Linked DNA regions of Homo sapiens: region 2 is linked to region 1. The links come from fine-mapping of genetic effects on gene expression. A gene starts in region 1. The other region holds a variant in brackets. All regions are shown on one strand. Distances are from middle to middle. Region 1 holds the start of LSAMP (limbic system associated membrane protein). Region 2 overlaps LSAMP (limbic system associated membrane protein).

What was found. PIP is the estimated chance that this variant, and not a neighbour inherited with it, causes the effect.
Region 2: its variant is fine-mapped to the expression of LSAMP in lymphoblastoid cells (GEUVADIS, PIP 0.95).

What each region holds. Positions count from the first base shown.
Region 1 is chr3:116,440,459-116,448,804 of GRCh38, forward strand. It overlaps LSAMP (limbic system associated membrane protein), which reads right to left and starts at 5,029. Exons shown (of 7, transcript NM_002338.5): 1 at 4,419-5,029. The coding sequence starts at 4,573.
Region 2 is chr3:116,306,987-116,315,332 of GRCh38, forward strand. All of the region lies in intron 1 of LSAMP (limbic system associated membrane protein), which reads right to left. Among named protein-coding and RNA genes, the nearest start is that of LSAMP-AS1, 49 kb to the right of the region's middle. The variant G/A (reference allele first, on the strand shown) is at 3,159.

The DNA.
Region 1 (8,346 bases):
TTCTAAGTCAAACCACATAAAATAAAAATCTCCTGTGTATTGTATGTGTGTATAAACCCACTTATATGTCCCATACTTACAGAAACACAGGTGGCCACAATTTGCTTTTCTTGCGAGATTTGCCCACTCTGTTTCTCAGGCCATAAATGACAACAAATGATAAAGCTCACAGGTACATAAATATTCTTTAACAAAATGTATATAATATGCCATATTCCTAGATGATATATAGTATGCTATACTCCATCATTTACTAAGTATATTTGATAAAGGATTTATCTGCAATGCACGATCCTTACAGTATCAGGGCTAACCAACAAATTTTGATAACATTTAGTGATTTAACTACAGAAAAAGAAAATTTCATGATGGTCACAAACTTACCCAGTAGGCCCATGCCCACAGTTTGTTTCAAATAGTGAATTGTAAGTCATAGAAAATCACATATCGTATCAAGAATTTGAGGGTTGACACTTCATTAGTGAATATTGCCATTCCACATGATTTACAGAAGATAAACAGAAATTTGAACAAGATCTTTATATTTCACTATCAAATAATCAAATCTCCTTTTGTTGTTTCTTCTTTTCCCCCCTTGGTGTAGAAACAAACAGGGAATTAAAGACCCCAACTTTGAAAAAACTAAACATTAGCTATTCTTCATTTAGATACTTAGTTTCCTTGGGAATCTGTAATACTTGTTAGGTACGCTAACATTTAACTGGGAACAATGTTATTATCATTAAAAGTATTATAATATCCTGTAAACATCAGATAGGGTCAGAATTGTGAGCTAAATAAAATTTTATTACCTTGAATTTAGAATATTTAAAATCACAAGTGTGAAGTCCCTGTATTTTATCACATGCCTACTTGTTTTATATCCAGATACGCATGTGTATGTACGTTTTACAAAGTTGCCTTATGAATAGATATGTGATAATATAATGTATTATAAAACTAACATGGTTCTTTGTGGCCAAATATTTTATTATTATCTTTTCAGAAATCTGCCACTCATGTTGAAAATATGGTCAGTAGGACTATTAAAAATGAAATTTTAAAGGTTGGTTTGAAATACCCTCTATTTCTGCTATTCTTTGACTTGTAAGAGAACTATTAATACATAGTCTCAACCTTCCAATATTAAGCAGGAGGTGAATCTCTATGGGTATGAGGGTAGGAGGGAAGAAACAGTGTTAGAAACTTATCCTGTAATTGAACTCTTACTCCTGTGGGAGCTGGTAATGAGGCAGGTAGACTCTGTTTAGAAAAGCACCTGAGGCAGCTTCATGACTGAAGTCCTGCGGATAAGCGTGTCTCACTCTTTCCTGTACACACAAATATAAATGCAGATTCTGGTTGTTCTATTTAGGGAGGACCGCCAAGGCTGCTGCTGCTGCCGCCACTACTCTGTGAATCACACTTTGATTCTTTGTCCCTGGGACAGAAGTTGGTATTGTGGTTATCTTTAGTTCTTTATATAATTTCTCACACAGGTCTGTAATCTCCTCTAGAAAATAATTGAGTTAGGTATGTATACATGAAGCTACCTCTCTTTCCCTCCAATTTTGTCACCATAATTATATAGTTTTTATTATTTTCAAAATGATAGAAATTGAGGGCAAGACCTGAAGCCTAGTGTGCACTCTCCTATCTGATGCATAATTACACTAAAGATCATAATTATACAAAAATGAGCATCAATCCCCAAAAGAAACTCTTGTTTCACAGAAAACTTTAAGTCAGTGAAGGTAAATGTTTTGGGGACAGACAGCCAAACTCCTGTCACTGGATTACCAGAATTACAAACCTCCCTTGTCTCCTGTTGCCATCTCATATCATTCGGGGCCACAAACTCACTAAGAGAATTATTTTTTTCTCCTAGCCATTTCACTTTCTCGGTGCCAGACATCTACTGTGGCTTCCAATGAATCAAGTTCTCCTTCCTTTCCTTCCCTGAAAGCTCATGCACCCAGTAAAATGTCACAAATAAAGTGAAAACACACCTTTCCCAGGCTGGCCTTATAAGCAGAAAGCAAGAGCACCATTCTTCACCAGGAAACTGACCCAGAAAGCTTACCGGTTTTAAAGAGATTGAGAAGAAGGTCAGCTAAGAAGACAAAGGGAATTCTCTCCATAGTTAATTCTGATGAAGCTCCACCAACCCCAAAATAAACCCTTGTCCAAGGCAAGGAAATAAAAAAGAGGGCATGTAAGGTGAGGTCTGGAAAAGAAATGGTGTTTCATAGGCGACTTATTTGCATGCTCTGTTTGTCTGTCTTTTCTTTCCCAGAGAATAAGTGGTTCTGTGTTTATTTTTTCTCTCAGAGTCCCTATTTCCACACTGTAATGTCTGCTAAAGCGTAATGTTTAAAACTCTGTTTCTATTGCGCCATAGACATACAAAAGCACATATGTATCATCCATAGATATGTATACAGTGAGACTGCCTCTGTATGAAAGCATAAGAATGTTTTTATTCTTCTGAATTAACATTTCTATACTTATCTAACTCTTAGACAACTGTAGTTTAAGGTATAGGAGATGCTAACTTAGAAAGACCTTACAAAGCTCAAGGACACTGAAATAAAAAACATATACATTCAAGTTATTCATTTTTCTCATATTCAATCTTGTAACCAGTGAACAAAATTTCTAGGGATAGCATATATTTATATAGAGTGCTTCACCATTAAAGGGTTAATGATGTTAGGGAGTATGAATGTTAGCAATTGAAATGGCATGCTTGTGTGTTTGCAAAAACATTTTCTGCACCATGTCCAAATTCCTTTGCAAACAGATAAATTACTCTGTAAATCTGATTACTCCATGTGGATAAATCACACATGCAGGTTTATAAGGCTGAAGAGCTAGAAGGGAAAATCTGCTTTGGATAGTAGGATCTTTGGGATTCGTAATCACCCAAAGCTCAGGAAATGAAGAAAGGAGTGCTTACACATTAGCATTTTCTTACTTTTTACAATCTGGAGAAACACATACCCACACAACACACACACATGCAATGCACGGCACACAACACACACTTTCGTCTCTAACAAGGCTAGAGCTCCCAAAGCAGGACACTGTGACAGCCAACCAAATTTATTTCTGAGAAAAGGAAAGAAAACTTTGCTGCTGTCGGCAGCTCTGCTAGAGAACTGCTCCCTGATGCCCCAGGGTTTATGCACTATCAGCTCCTTGCACACAGATTAGAGGTTTATTTTCTATTGTATACTGTGTTTTTATTGCCACAACAAGCAATATTACCTAGATAGACAGACTGACACTGGGTCATTTTATTTGGAGGAAATGAGATTTTTAAAAGATCTCCAAGGAGAGTGATTCTTTCTTTTTGTTAGCATCTGCCAGAAATTCAAGGAAAGCTAGAAAAAAGAACAAGGGGTAGGTACAGTTGGTGGAGAGGAGGAAGAGAAAAGAGAAGCACAAAAAATAACCTTGGAGCATTTTAGAAATAAAAATATGACTAGGTCTCATTTGAGTCTCTCTAGCTCACAGTACCTGATAGGGGTCAAACTCCCAAGGACTTGGGACTCTTCTTTCCAAATTTCAATCTCAAATTATTTTAGAGTTTGCCAGAGCTGCACAGAAAAAAAGACTTTGAAGTCAATAATCAATTTGAAATATCCATTTTATGCCAGGTTAATTCTCTCCCAACCTCTGTGTTTAACACTCCTACTCTTAAATATCAGCAATTTGGCAAATTCCTTTTCTTTCTGCTCTTCATATCTTGTGTTGATTTATATCCACATTCCAGGAAAGGCTCAGTAACCAACCAAAGTTCTAAGATTGATTTATTGCCCTCCATGTCAATTAGAAGATCCTTACAGAAAGTCTTCTATCAGAAACCCTCACACACAACCTTGATATGTGTGTGTGTGTGTGTATGTGTGTGTGTGTGTTGGCATGAAAAACACACACACACACACACAGACACGGGAGGAGCAAGGAGAATGCAGTACTGTGTACTACTCTCTGAGAGCCATAATCCAACAACCTTTCTTTCAGAATTAAGGACCCCCAACAAAACTCTCAAGTGCAATGCCACAGCAATTACAATAGTGAGAATACTGCCCAGAAGTCACTAATGCCATGGGTGAAGTTAGGCTTCCTTGATAAGAGAAACAAGGTCCTAAGAACCGAACAACATTTAACCAACACCACTGCTGCTTGACAGGGACCAGAATTCCCTTGAATTTTGTTAGCTATAATGCCAACCAGTCAGTAAAACAGGGACACACACACACACACCACACACACACACACCACAAGCCTGCAGCATCAGGAGCTGGAGTTCAAGGAGATCAGACACACACACACACACACACACAAACACACACACACACACACACACACGTGTAGACGCGCGCAGCAGAAAAGTTGCCCGAAAGCCCTACCTGAGGATGGCTGTGTCCCCCTGCCTCACGGTGATGTTGTCCGTGCCTCGGTTAAAATCCACGCTGCGAACAGGCAGTCCTGTGGGAAGAAGGCAGAGCAATCTCAGTAGGACCAGTGGCAACTGTTTCCGATCCGGCTGAACTCTCCTGACCATGGTGGCCACGCCGAGGTGCGGGTCCGCGGGGTGCTCTGGAGGGGTGCGCGCTGCTCGCGAGGAGAGGCTTCACCAACACGGGGCTTTCATCCACAGCGAGCGCAGAGCGGGCTTTGCCAGTTTATGGTCCTTTCCACTTTGCCTCTCTCTTTCCCTCGCTCAGTCTCTTTTCCCTCTAAGACTTAACAAAGCCCTCATAAAACCCAAGCAGAAGGGTGAAAAGTAAAAGCAACACAATTTCAAAAGAGAGAGTGCAAATAGCAAGCCCTCTGGAAGAGCTGAAGAGGAAGCCAAAGGAAAGGGTTCTTGTTTGGTCTCTCTGTGACTGGATGCTCCTCTGCCAGTGTCTGAGCTGAGCTCCTTCGCTCTGTAACCCACTTTCCCAGGCTGGCGGGCGGGCGGGCGAGGGAGCCGGCACCAAGCCTGCCAGTGAGTGTACAGAAACAGCCACACAGCAGCAGCAGCAGCAGAAGCAGCAGCAACCCAGAGCCTCTCTCCCCCTCCTCCCTTTCCTGTTTCTCCCAGTCCCTGGCGCTCTCTCAGCTCAGCACCTCCCCCCCACCCCCCCACCCTCCCCCCACCCTGCTGGTTTTCAACAGCCCCTCCACGTCATCCCCTCCGCCCTCCCCTCGACGTGGCCCCTCGCTTTGCACAACTGCCCCCTTCAGCAGCAGCCAGCCTCAATGAAAGCCTGATGCGCCTTTGGGTTGTCAGGACGACAGCTCCATCTGAGGCCTGGCTGATTTCCTTAAGAAGGGGGAACGGAGCTTAGAGGTACTGTTCAGGAGAGAGGGGAGAAGGAGAGGGACTTAAGTTATAAAAGAACAGGAGAAAGAGTCCAGGAAAGGAGAGGGAAGGGGTGAGGAAAGAAGAAAAAGGAGGTGGGAAGGAGAGTTGCAAATGAGGGGAGTGGGACAGAGGACAGGAAAGCTTTGAGGTGGGGAGTGAGGGTGGGGAATGTCCTGAAAGATGGGAGAAGGAAACTGAGGAGAAACTTGACAGTGGAGTCTAAGATTAAAAGCCAAAGTTGATTTCAAACGAAACATTCTTGGCAACTGGCTTTGCGTGTTCAAGTCTTGTTCATTCTTTCCTCTTTCCTGCACTTTCTCTTACAGGATTAAAATGGTTTATTTTCTCTCCTTCCTTCATCCCCTCCCCCTCTTGGAACCCCTTTATGAAAGATGGATTGGAGACAATGCTGGTATTGAGTGGTCTGGGGTGTGAATGCTTGGCTTGTTTTTTCCAAGTGCCAGCCTCAGCAGCTGATCCCTGATCCCTAAATCAACTTCACTCTCCAGGAAACTCTCACTCAATCCTACACATGAGTAATGGTATTAAGGATTACTATTTAAAGGGCACATTGAATTGCTACCCAAGTTCCTCCTGGCACTTACTTCTCAAAATGTTCATATGCAAGGAAGGAGATTTGTAAATCAGAAAGCTTGTCATTTGCAAGGAGACACTAAGTAAGGTTGTGTGCAGTACTCCTGCTAATGGCAGACAGGTTACCATCATTTGTCACTCCTTTTATTCCATGAGCCAAGCAAGTGATGAGGACCATAAAGACCACTGATAGTCACTCAAGTGACAGCCCCACACTCTTGGACATCTCCCTCATTACTGATGTTGAGGATAAAAAATGTGTTTGTACCAGCCAAGGACTTTATTTTTCTCTTCTTTGATTATATTTATTTAAATAATGAAAGTATTCATATGGTACAAAAACCAAATGGTACAAGATGCTATAGAGTGAATTGCAGTTTTCTTCTTCTTTTTTTTTTTTTTTTTTTTTTTGAGACAGAGTCTCACTTTATTGCCCAGGCTGGAGTGCAGTGGCTCAATCTCGGCTCACTGCAAGCTCCGCCTCCCGGGTTCACGCCATTCTCCTGCCTCAGCCTCCCGAGTAGCTGGGACTACAGGCGCCCGCTACCACGCCTAATTTTTTCTGTATTTTTTTTAGTAGAGACGGGTTTTCACTGTGTCAGCCAGGATGGTCTCGATCTCCTGATCTCGTGATCCACCCGCCTCGTCCTCCCAAACTGCTGGGATCCCAAACTGCTGGGATTACAGGCGTGAGCCACGGCGCCCGGCCGTAGTTTTCTTCTTATTCCCGTCTTTAGGCAACCCATTTCTCTTTTTTGGAGGCAACATATATTTTAAGTTTGTTATATATCTTTCCATAAATATTCCATATATATAAAAATAAATATGTACATAGATATTATACCCATCCCTCTTATGTAAGCAAATGTTTAGCCTAGGACATTTGCCAAAAATAAAATAAAAAGAAAGAAAGAAACATGTTTAGGAATCCTTATCAAACCCCACCAGAGCACAAGCCTTAAAGAAACACTGTGCTGAAACTGGCTTGTCCTCAGAATACTCAAAGCACTTTTTCTGCGCATGTTTTCAGTTTAAAAGATAGATGAACTCTTACAGATTACGTGAGGAAAAAAAGGAAGACCTATTTTGCTTTTAAGAAAACACGGAGGATTGGAACCTGAATTGTCACAAATCCATGATTGATGGAGTTCAATTAATTTTATGTGTACTGTGCATTCATTTTATATAAATCAAGGTGTCCTATGTCAGGGATTATACACAGTGCCCAGTTAATAAACCAATGTTCGACCACTAAGTTATAACTCAGCTGTTTAAAACTTGGAATCCATTTTGCCATAGGAGAAATAGTTAGGCCAAGTGGATAGTTGACTAAAAAACTCATAATCCTGTGAATCCCGGTATCAATGGACAAATGAGCTTCAAGTGCCAAACAAACAAACAAACAAACAAACGAAGATCAAAGATGCAAGGATTACATAATTTTCTGCCAAGATTGCAGAGAAAAGAGCACCCTCCCTTTCCCCACACCACCAACAGACTTGACCATCCTTGTCAGGCTAATTTTTTTGTTTGTTTGTTTTGTTTTTTGTTTTTTGTTTGTTTGTTTGTTTTTTGTTTTTTTTTTTTATACTTTAAGTTTTAGGGTACATGTGCACATTGTGCAGGTTAGTTACATATGTAAACATGTGCCATGCTGGTGCGCTGCACCCACTAACTCGTCATCTAGCATTAGGTATATCTCCCAATGCTATCCCTCCCCCCTCCCCACACCCCACCACAGTCCCCAGAGTGTGATATTCCCCTTCCTGTGTCCATGTGATCTCATTGTTCAATTCCCACCTATGAGTGAGAATATGCGGTGTTTGGTTTTTTCTTCTTGCGATAGTTTACTGAGAATGATGATTTTAAGCACTTAGGAATGAAGAGTTGGCTTAGACAAAGGCTTCGATTAACATATATCCTTTGGTTTGGTGCTTCTTCCATGTCAAGTGGAAGAAAAGAGAGATAAAAGGGACTGGTAGCTATGAGAATCATCTGTTTCCATTGCTGGTGCTAGGTGAATAGTATGACCCCCAGTAAGAGCAGAGATACTCTGAGGGGAAGGATTAGACATTTAAAGAGTATAAGTATTCTCCTGTGTCAGTCAACTAGATTTTGTATGAAGAAAGGAAAGTTTTTTTCAGGACAAGGAGGAAGTATGGTGGCTGGTAGCATATCATAAACAGAAGATGTTTATACATGATTGTTAGCTAATACCTATACTGGTAACCTCATACTACCAGAAGAACTTGCCTGGTGGTGCTTGGAGAAAACATATGTTTAACATACTGTAATATGAAGTAATTTACATCAAAGTAGTAGGAATGTGGAATTTGTAGTAACTCAATCAAATCTGGAATTTGTCTCTACATTCACTCTGAGAAATGGAT
Region 2 (8,346 bases), 130 kb before region 1:
CCTTTGGAAATGAAGGGTATGTGTTCTTTGCTCAGCATTTCCAGGTTTGTTCCTTAAAATGGATGCCATCACTAAGCAAGAAAAGAGATATATAATCGGTATGGGTGAAGTGAAGCTTAATACTTTAAATTGCATTTAGTTAGAAAAAAGTTTCACATTTTAACCTAAACCTTTGCATTCTCTTTGCCAAATTTGACTCAGGGCAAAGCAATCAAAAGCTGCCAGCAGTCACTTAAATGGACAGAACACTATAATAAGTAATTTAGAAGAGCAGATAATCCAAAGTTCACCTCTATTTGGGTTTGTAATAACATTTTCAGCTGATTTACTTTTTAAATTATTTTTAGGTTAATATTAAAACTAATTTGCAATACTTTAAAATAACATACTAACTGGGTACCAGAGGCCTAGAAATATTCAAGACTCTAAATGGAGCCAACTTGGGTTGTTCAACATGCTGGGTACAATTCTCAAAGCATATAATCCAAAATAGAGTGCATTTAGTATGTGCTTTTGCTTTCTCTGACTGCTCTTATTCTTGGTGATAGAACCAAGAAAATCTCCTGGTGCTTTCTCCTTTAGATTGGGCCTGTTGAGGAAGTCCTGATACACAAAAATAGTCATGCACTATTATTCAAAATAGTAAAAGATTGGAGACAACTTAATGTCCAACAATAAAGGACTAGTTAAACAAATTATAATGCATCAATAAGATGGGTTTCTGTACCATTAAAATAGCATTTAGAGAGAATTTTAATGACTTGAGAAACAGCTTATGATATACCATAAAAAGAAAAAAATTTTCACATTATAAAATTGACTATACAGCATTATAACCACTATGTGATTAAGAGCAAAATTGCTGAAATCTGGCTGTGTACCTTTGAATTCTGCTTGTGTCAGTTATTAGATATTTGATCTAGAATAAACTTCTTAACCTCTCTGAGCCTCAATTTCCCTATTTATAAAATGCACATGATAATAATCTCTATCTCATAGTGTTGTTATGAGAATAAAGAGATGTTTAATGCATTCGTAAAATGCCTGGAACCAAATAAGCACAATAAATGGTACTATTTTTATTTGTTTTAAATCAACAGAAACTTGCTCACGCTGTTTCTTCTACCTAAAAACCTTTCCCCCTACCATCTTTTAAAATTGCCTATTAGATCCTGCTTTTCCTCTAAGATCCATCTTACATGTCATCTATACAAAGTATGAAGCTTTTGCTCAGGACAAGCTCCCTCTAGACAAAATTAATCACCCCTTCCTTTTTTGTTGTCAGAGCATTTTACAATAAACCCTTTCTCAGCATCTATGCCATAAGATATGAATCAACATGTATCTCTTTCCCCGGAGGAATGTGGAGTCCTCAAAATTAGAGGGCATGTCTTGATCTTCTCTGTATCATCACAGCCTAACAAGTGTGACAGACAATAATTGCTCAGTCTACACTGGATTAATGAATGAATGAATGCAAGGTAAATTCTGTGAATGAAGCAGGCAGAGAGGAAAGATGAGACAGCAGTTTCTTTCCCTGTGACTTCCAAAGGTTCAGGTCTACTTTTTGGCCTGGAGGAACAATATTTCCAGTCTATATTTCATGACTCCAAATTCTCAAGATTTCTATTTTCTATTTTCTTTCTATTGTCACCTGTCCTAAAACATAATACATGTCCTAACAACTGAAGCAGAGTGGAATAACAGAATAAAACATGAACTTAGGGGTTGAAAGCCCAGGTTCTATTGCTGACATTACCACTACGACCTTGAATAAATCACTTTTGAACATGTAAAATGGGCATGATAATATACTATTTCAAAGGGTTAAGTATCAAAGAATGCATGTGAGAGCATTTCAGAAAAGCAGCACACAAACGTAAGATATCATCATTAGTTCTTTTGCTGGTAAAGCTTTGCTTATTTGAAAGTCACATTTAGTAACATACATTTTACAAATTTACAGTAGCCTATAATTCTTCGACAACATTAAGGACAACTTTTCAATATTTCCCTTTGCCTCATTCTACAGCAAGGCAGTTGGAAAGATGGAGAGGTTTAAAATTGTTAAATAAAATTGTTAAATAGAGTTCCTACGGAACACAATAAAATGGGAATGTGATTCACATTAATATTTAAATATACAAACTATTCTTTGTTCTATTTATAAAGCATCAATTAGCAATTACATTAAAATGCCCACATAATTCCTATTTAGTTGACAGCATCCTTCTTCCCATTTCATAGACATGCTGAGGCACAGCTAGGTCTAAGTATATCATTGCAGATTACCAAGTATAATCTGGTAAAGGAATTAAGAATTACTTTCTAACCTAGAGCTGCACAACAGAACTTTCTGTGACAATAAAAATGTGTGATAGTCTGCACTGTTCCATATAGTAACCGTGAGCTATGTATGACTTTTTAGCCCTTGAATTGTGATTAGTGAGATTGAAGAGCTTAATTTTTAATTTAGTTTAATTTAAATCAATTTAAATTTAAATAGCTACATTTGGCTAGTGGCTACTTACTATATGAGGAAGTGACTTTCTAACCAGTCCCTGTACTCAAGAGGACCACTCCCCAGCTTTCACATGCAATCTAAATATAAACTTTGTATTTGTTTCTTAGCCAAATTAATGCTTTAAAAAGAACAAGAGTCTATTACTTCATGATGTGAAAGACAACTCCACACAAACCGCTGGCCATGGCCAATGTCTTTTCTCCATGGGAAGAACATTATAATTAGAGGTTGATTTAGGGGGCCTAGAATCAGAACAAGGAAGGTGATTGGATGATGAAAATGCTTAATGACATCTGGTTACAATAGCTGGCCAAAGACATGGACTAGTGCTATTGCTAGAACACTTAGTCTGCCAGCCAAGACTTTCCTTTGATATTGTTTTTGCAAGTATTGCTGCCCTTGTTTTTGTGACTCTTCTTTCCATGGTCAACCTTTTTTGATTGGCACATCCTTCCTTCTCTATTTCTCCAAACTCACACTTGATCTGCACTGGCAGAGAGAAAGGTTTGTCTCATCTCTTTGGATTTGATTCCTCATAACTCTCAGTCCAACACACATTTCCCCTTTTATCTACTGCAGAAATGCTAGGAAGCCACAAAAGAGAAAGAATATTTATTTTAACCCTTCTGATAAG[G/A]AAGGAACTCAATCTATCTGGGAACAGACGTTCCTTCTTTTCCTTCAGACATACCATCAAGAGCATCTTAAGGTCAGACTGTAAAATATCTTTATCTTTTCAAGGCAGTTTTTGCTCATATTATAATCAAGGACAAGAGAAGTCACACAACTCTGGCAATGCAAGTCCTTGCAGCAGCAGGTGAGAGTGAAACTTTTAGCTACTAAAACTGCTCTTGCAAAACTAAGTCAGGTTCTGGAAGGTGCCGATTCTCAGTCAAGATGAGATCCTTGGCTTCTCAATTTGGTGTATGAGTGATTTTGATATTCATTAAATTGACTGACAGAGTGAGGCACAGGCAACCTTTACCTACTCACCAGCTGTCCAGTCCTGAAATGTTCTGGACTATTTTGATCCTTTAGGCTTTCTGTATATACAGCTATTCAGATGCAGACCTTAAATCTGCCCAGAAAGATTCTTAATTATTCCAGAGCTGGCCTTTGAAGTTGTGATTCTATATTTACTAAATGATGAGTAAGTCTCCCAACGAAAGAAAAATTTCTCAAGGCAATTGGGTTCCTAATAAATGATGCCTAAAGATCTTAATGTCATAACTTTACACAAAATTGAGGTCACTAAGTTCAATTTCCTCTTTACATACTTGGAAAAATTTGGGTCCAGAAAAGTTAACTGACTTGACCAAGAACATAAAAATGTATCTAAACAAAATATTGATAGTTATAACTTAAAATGGTGATGATGATGGTGAGGAGGAAGATGATGATAAGTTGTTTTTTTTTTTTTTTTAAATCATGGATATGAATAGTTCACGGATAACTAGATTACCAGACTAGGTTACCTGAAAGATCATACTACGTAGTTTTATAGAGAAGTTTGTCAATTTAACGGCACATTGAAATAACAAGATCTATTCAAATTAGCAAGGGTTGAGGATCATCACTTACAGAATTAGTAGGTACTAGTCTAAAGCTACCGATGATCATTTGTAGAAATCATTATGTAATTTCTAAGACCTGGATAACCCTGAAAACCATAAAGATAACCTCAAACAGCCATTCTCAATTCCCATTCCTTCTCGTTGGAACTACTTCATCTTTTCTTATATTTACTTTCAATATTAAAGTCAGTAGTTTCAATATTAAAAACAGTAGTTCTCAAAATTGGCTGGACATTGAAATTAGTAGAGAATTTCACTTTTTTTTTCTTTTTAATTTACAAATTCCTTAGTCTCATCCAAGAGTTCTTGGTTGCAGTCTAGGAATCCATGTTTTTAATAAATTCTCCCAAGCGATTCTGATGCAGCATTTGAGAATATCATTTATACAGAACTGGAGTTATTTATACTTCTGGCTTTTCAACCACTACATTTTAAAAGCAGGAACAAGTTTTAATTTTATTCCTTTATGTATCTGTGTTTGAGCTCCATCCTTATTCTTTACAAGGTGACCTGTAGAAAGGTTTAGAACCGGACAACCAGACACATCTCAGCTTGGAGTCCAGCCCTGCCACTACGAGCTGGAGGAAATTATAAAACTTTTGAGACCTAGTTCCTCATATAATTGTACATAACTTAAGGGTTTGTTGTACAATTTAAATAAGGTGATGCACCTTGAAGGCAGCCTAAAACACTATGAGACCAGTCATTGCAGTAGTAGAGACAGTAGTATTAACAGTACCAGCAGTAGCAGTGGTAGTATTAGCAGTACTTGCTCAATAAATACCTTTTGATTTAACTAAGAAAGAAACTACATCTGTTAAGTAAGCCATTGGAATAATTTGAAGAAATAAAGCCCTGAGCAAGATGAATGCCTATATGAGGAGAAAATAGTGACAAGTCAATTTAATTTTCATCTCTGGTGGAGTGGAAAACCATACAGAAAAGGGAAAAGCAATAGATACAATCCATTGATCAATGATATTTTTGACTCAGTTCTATTTGGCATTCTTATCAAAAAGCTAGAAAAAGGTGGTATTGATCTGTGTAGCTAAAAATCTTTTGCTTCACCCTAAATTCGCATGTACTCCCACATTTTCCTCTCTTTATTCCCCTCCCCCAACAAATAAACTAACAAATAATCCATCAGGGTTGATCACAAAAGGTGTTTATATGGAGGCTGGCTGCAGATGGCAGGTGAATCGGACAAAAAGGGCTCCTTAGAAATGTTGGCTCAGCAACCCTGCCCATCTTTGGACTTCTCTTTCACCTCTCTAGAGGCTATGGCATAAAATATGGGCATTAATATTCTAAGATTCATTCTGAGCACCTTTAACAGAGTCAGACACTGTGCAGCTATTAAGATAATAGCCAGTAGCATGCTCCCCTCCTTCTCTTCCCCCTTTCCATTCTGAGTTATTTACTCTCCCCATCTTCTTTGCATTTTTAAAATAATCCATTTAATTTTTTCTTTTGTATTTTTTTTCTATCATCTATGCCTTTAACCTATTCACAATTCTCACAGGCATTTGTTAGATATGCCAGAGCATGCAGGGCTTAGCAGCTACCTACATTCCCCTCAAGAAGGGGTGCAGGTCACTAGCCTCATACCCACGCTATGGGATGTCTCTCAGGAAACTAAGGTCAACTAGAGAGCGAAAGAAGCCACCATAATACAGCAATGATGTATGCAATGAAAACAAGAGAATAATGTTTTCATTCAAATGTTCCAAAAAATCCAATATTTGTCTTTGCAAGTGTGTGTGTATGTGTGTTTCTGTGTGTGTGTGTCTTCATCTGTAGACACATATCTTACTCACAAAATGCATGCATTCCACTCATGACATTGCTCTCCAACAAAATTTTTATCTAAAATGTCATTCCTCACCTTATTTTTCAGTGATGGTCTTAGTCAATGTTAAGGACGCAGTTGCACAAATATAGATCCTAAGTTCTTTGGAACAAAAACATTCTGATGAAGACCCCATAGCACAAAAACACCTTTATGAATATTTTTATTTCTAAAAATCTCAGAAGCACTCTTAAACCTCTTGCTTTGCTTAACCCATGAAGGCCTGGTTATGGAGACAACATACTATTCCATGACTTTCTAATTTGTCCTTCAATTAATCACCACAGCTCTGCAACACTCGGCAGTACTCTGTTGGAGTCACAGGAAACAAAATGTGCCCTTCTGCTGATGAAACTTTGCTGTCTGTGGAGGTATTTTAGCCTGCTGCCTGGATAATTACATGTGTAACTCACATTAGCAATACAGAGTGACTGGAGGCGGATGCACCCAGCAAGGCCACATGGGACCCCGTATGGATGTGATGGCCCCTTGCCATCATGGGTCACTGAAGGGCAGCTGCAATAACCCTCATCCAGTTCTGCCCTCTCAATAATCTCTGGCACTGCCTGTGTTTTCTCTTATTCAAGTGAGGGCAAGCACCTTCTAGTCCACAGGGGTTGGGCACAGACTGAGACACGAAGTCATGTGCCTTAGAAAGGTCAAGGTTGGTTCATAGGCCTCTTAGAGCAAAGAAGGGCAGGAGAGAAAGAAAAACTAGCATTTATTGAAAACTTAGAATGTGGTCAGGCACAGTGGCCCACACCTATCATCCCAGTACTTTGGGAGGCCAAGGTGGGTGGATCACCTGAGGTCAGGTGTTTGAGACCAGCCTGGCCAGCATGGTGAAACCCTGTCTGTACTAAAAATACAAAAATTAGCCAGGTGTGGTGGTGTGCACCTGTAATCCCAGCTACCTGGGAGGCTGAGGCAGGAGAATTGCTTGAACCTGGAAGGCAGAGATTGCAGTGAGCCGAGATCACACCATTGCACTCCAGCCTGGGCTACAGAGTGAAACTCAGTCTCAAAAACAAAAAACAAAATTGGACTGTACGAAGTCTTGTGTGAAGCACTTTCCCACAGCTGTATAACATAATTCTCACAATAATACAGTAAAAGAATGCAGTTACTATTTTACACATAAAGAAATGTGGTACAGAGAAGTTAAGATAATTGCTTAAGATTGCTCAGCTAGTTTGTAGCCAACCTAGAACTAGAGATTCAGTGTCCTAGTTCCTAACCCAATGTATTTAAGAACTCAGGCTCCAGAAATAGATTGAGTCCAACATCTAATAATTATATAACCTGGATAATTTTCTTACCCTCTCTATACATCAGATCGCTAATTTGCGAAACTGAATTCATAATAGTGCCAACTTCATAGAATTGTTATGAAGGTGAATCCATGTAAAATCCTTAGGACAATGCTTAGAAACATGGCAAAAGATTTCAAGAAACTCCTGGTAGAACTCATAGGCTGGTGGGAAAGACAGATGCATAAACAGATTAATTAAAGGACAAACCTGCCAAACACTTTTCAGTAACGTTAAAAAGAAAATGGCGTGAGATCTCACAGGAGAATTTACTTAGCATCCCCCATCCTGTAAAATGTGAAATAAGCCCATCTGAATGAAAGGAAAATAAAATTCACAATGGTGTTTGTGGAAACTGGCTATGTCAGAATATAGTTATGGGTTTAACTGATAAAGACAGATAAGGTAGTTCCAGGAATCATGTTTTACTTAGAGCTCCCCTGCCTGCGTCTGGAAGCCCTTTGAGGTTGCTGTACTGCGTGCTTAGCTGGACCATTAGTGCTGCTATTTTTAGAGCTGTCAACATCTATATAAAACTGAACTCATCCAAAAAGACCATATATAGGTTCTAAGAATGAAACATTTTTCTCTTACAAAAAGAATAAAGACCCCCACTATTCCCAGGAATGAGAATGCAATATCAATTCTTGGGGGTTTTTTTGTTTAATAAACAATGATAATGTTTAAGCACTGTATATTGAATAAAAACATCATTGGCCCTGAAATAGAATGACCCTCAATTTCAAAACAGAATGTCCCTTCAGTTTGGCAAATCACCTCAATTTTCAGGTTTTTGCTTCAATACTGTGCTCTGATACTACAGGATCATTACCTACCAGCTAAACTGAATGACTTTCAATTTCCCTAAACACACTTCCAGGCTTTGTAGCCTCCAGGCTTTTGCTTATTCTATCCCCTCCACCTGTATTGTTCTTACCCATATCCCAGTTTCTATCTATCAGATTCTACCTACCAAGTCTCCAAGATGCACTCAGAGGCCTACTTCTTCCTATAGCCTCTTTAAGGCATCAAAAATTTCCTCAGATGCAATAGGGGTCCAGTCTTATGTACACTGTCTTCTTCCAAATCCCC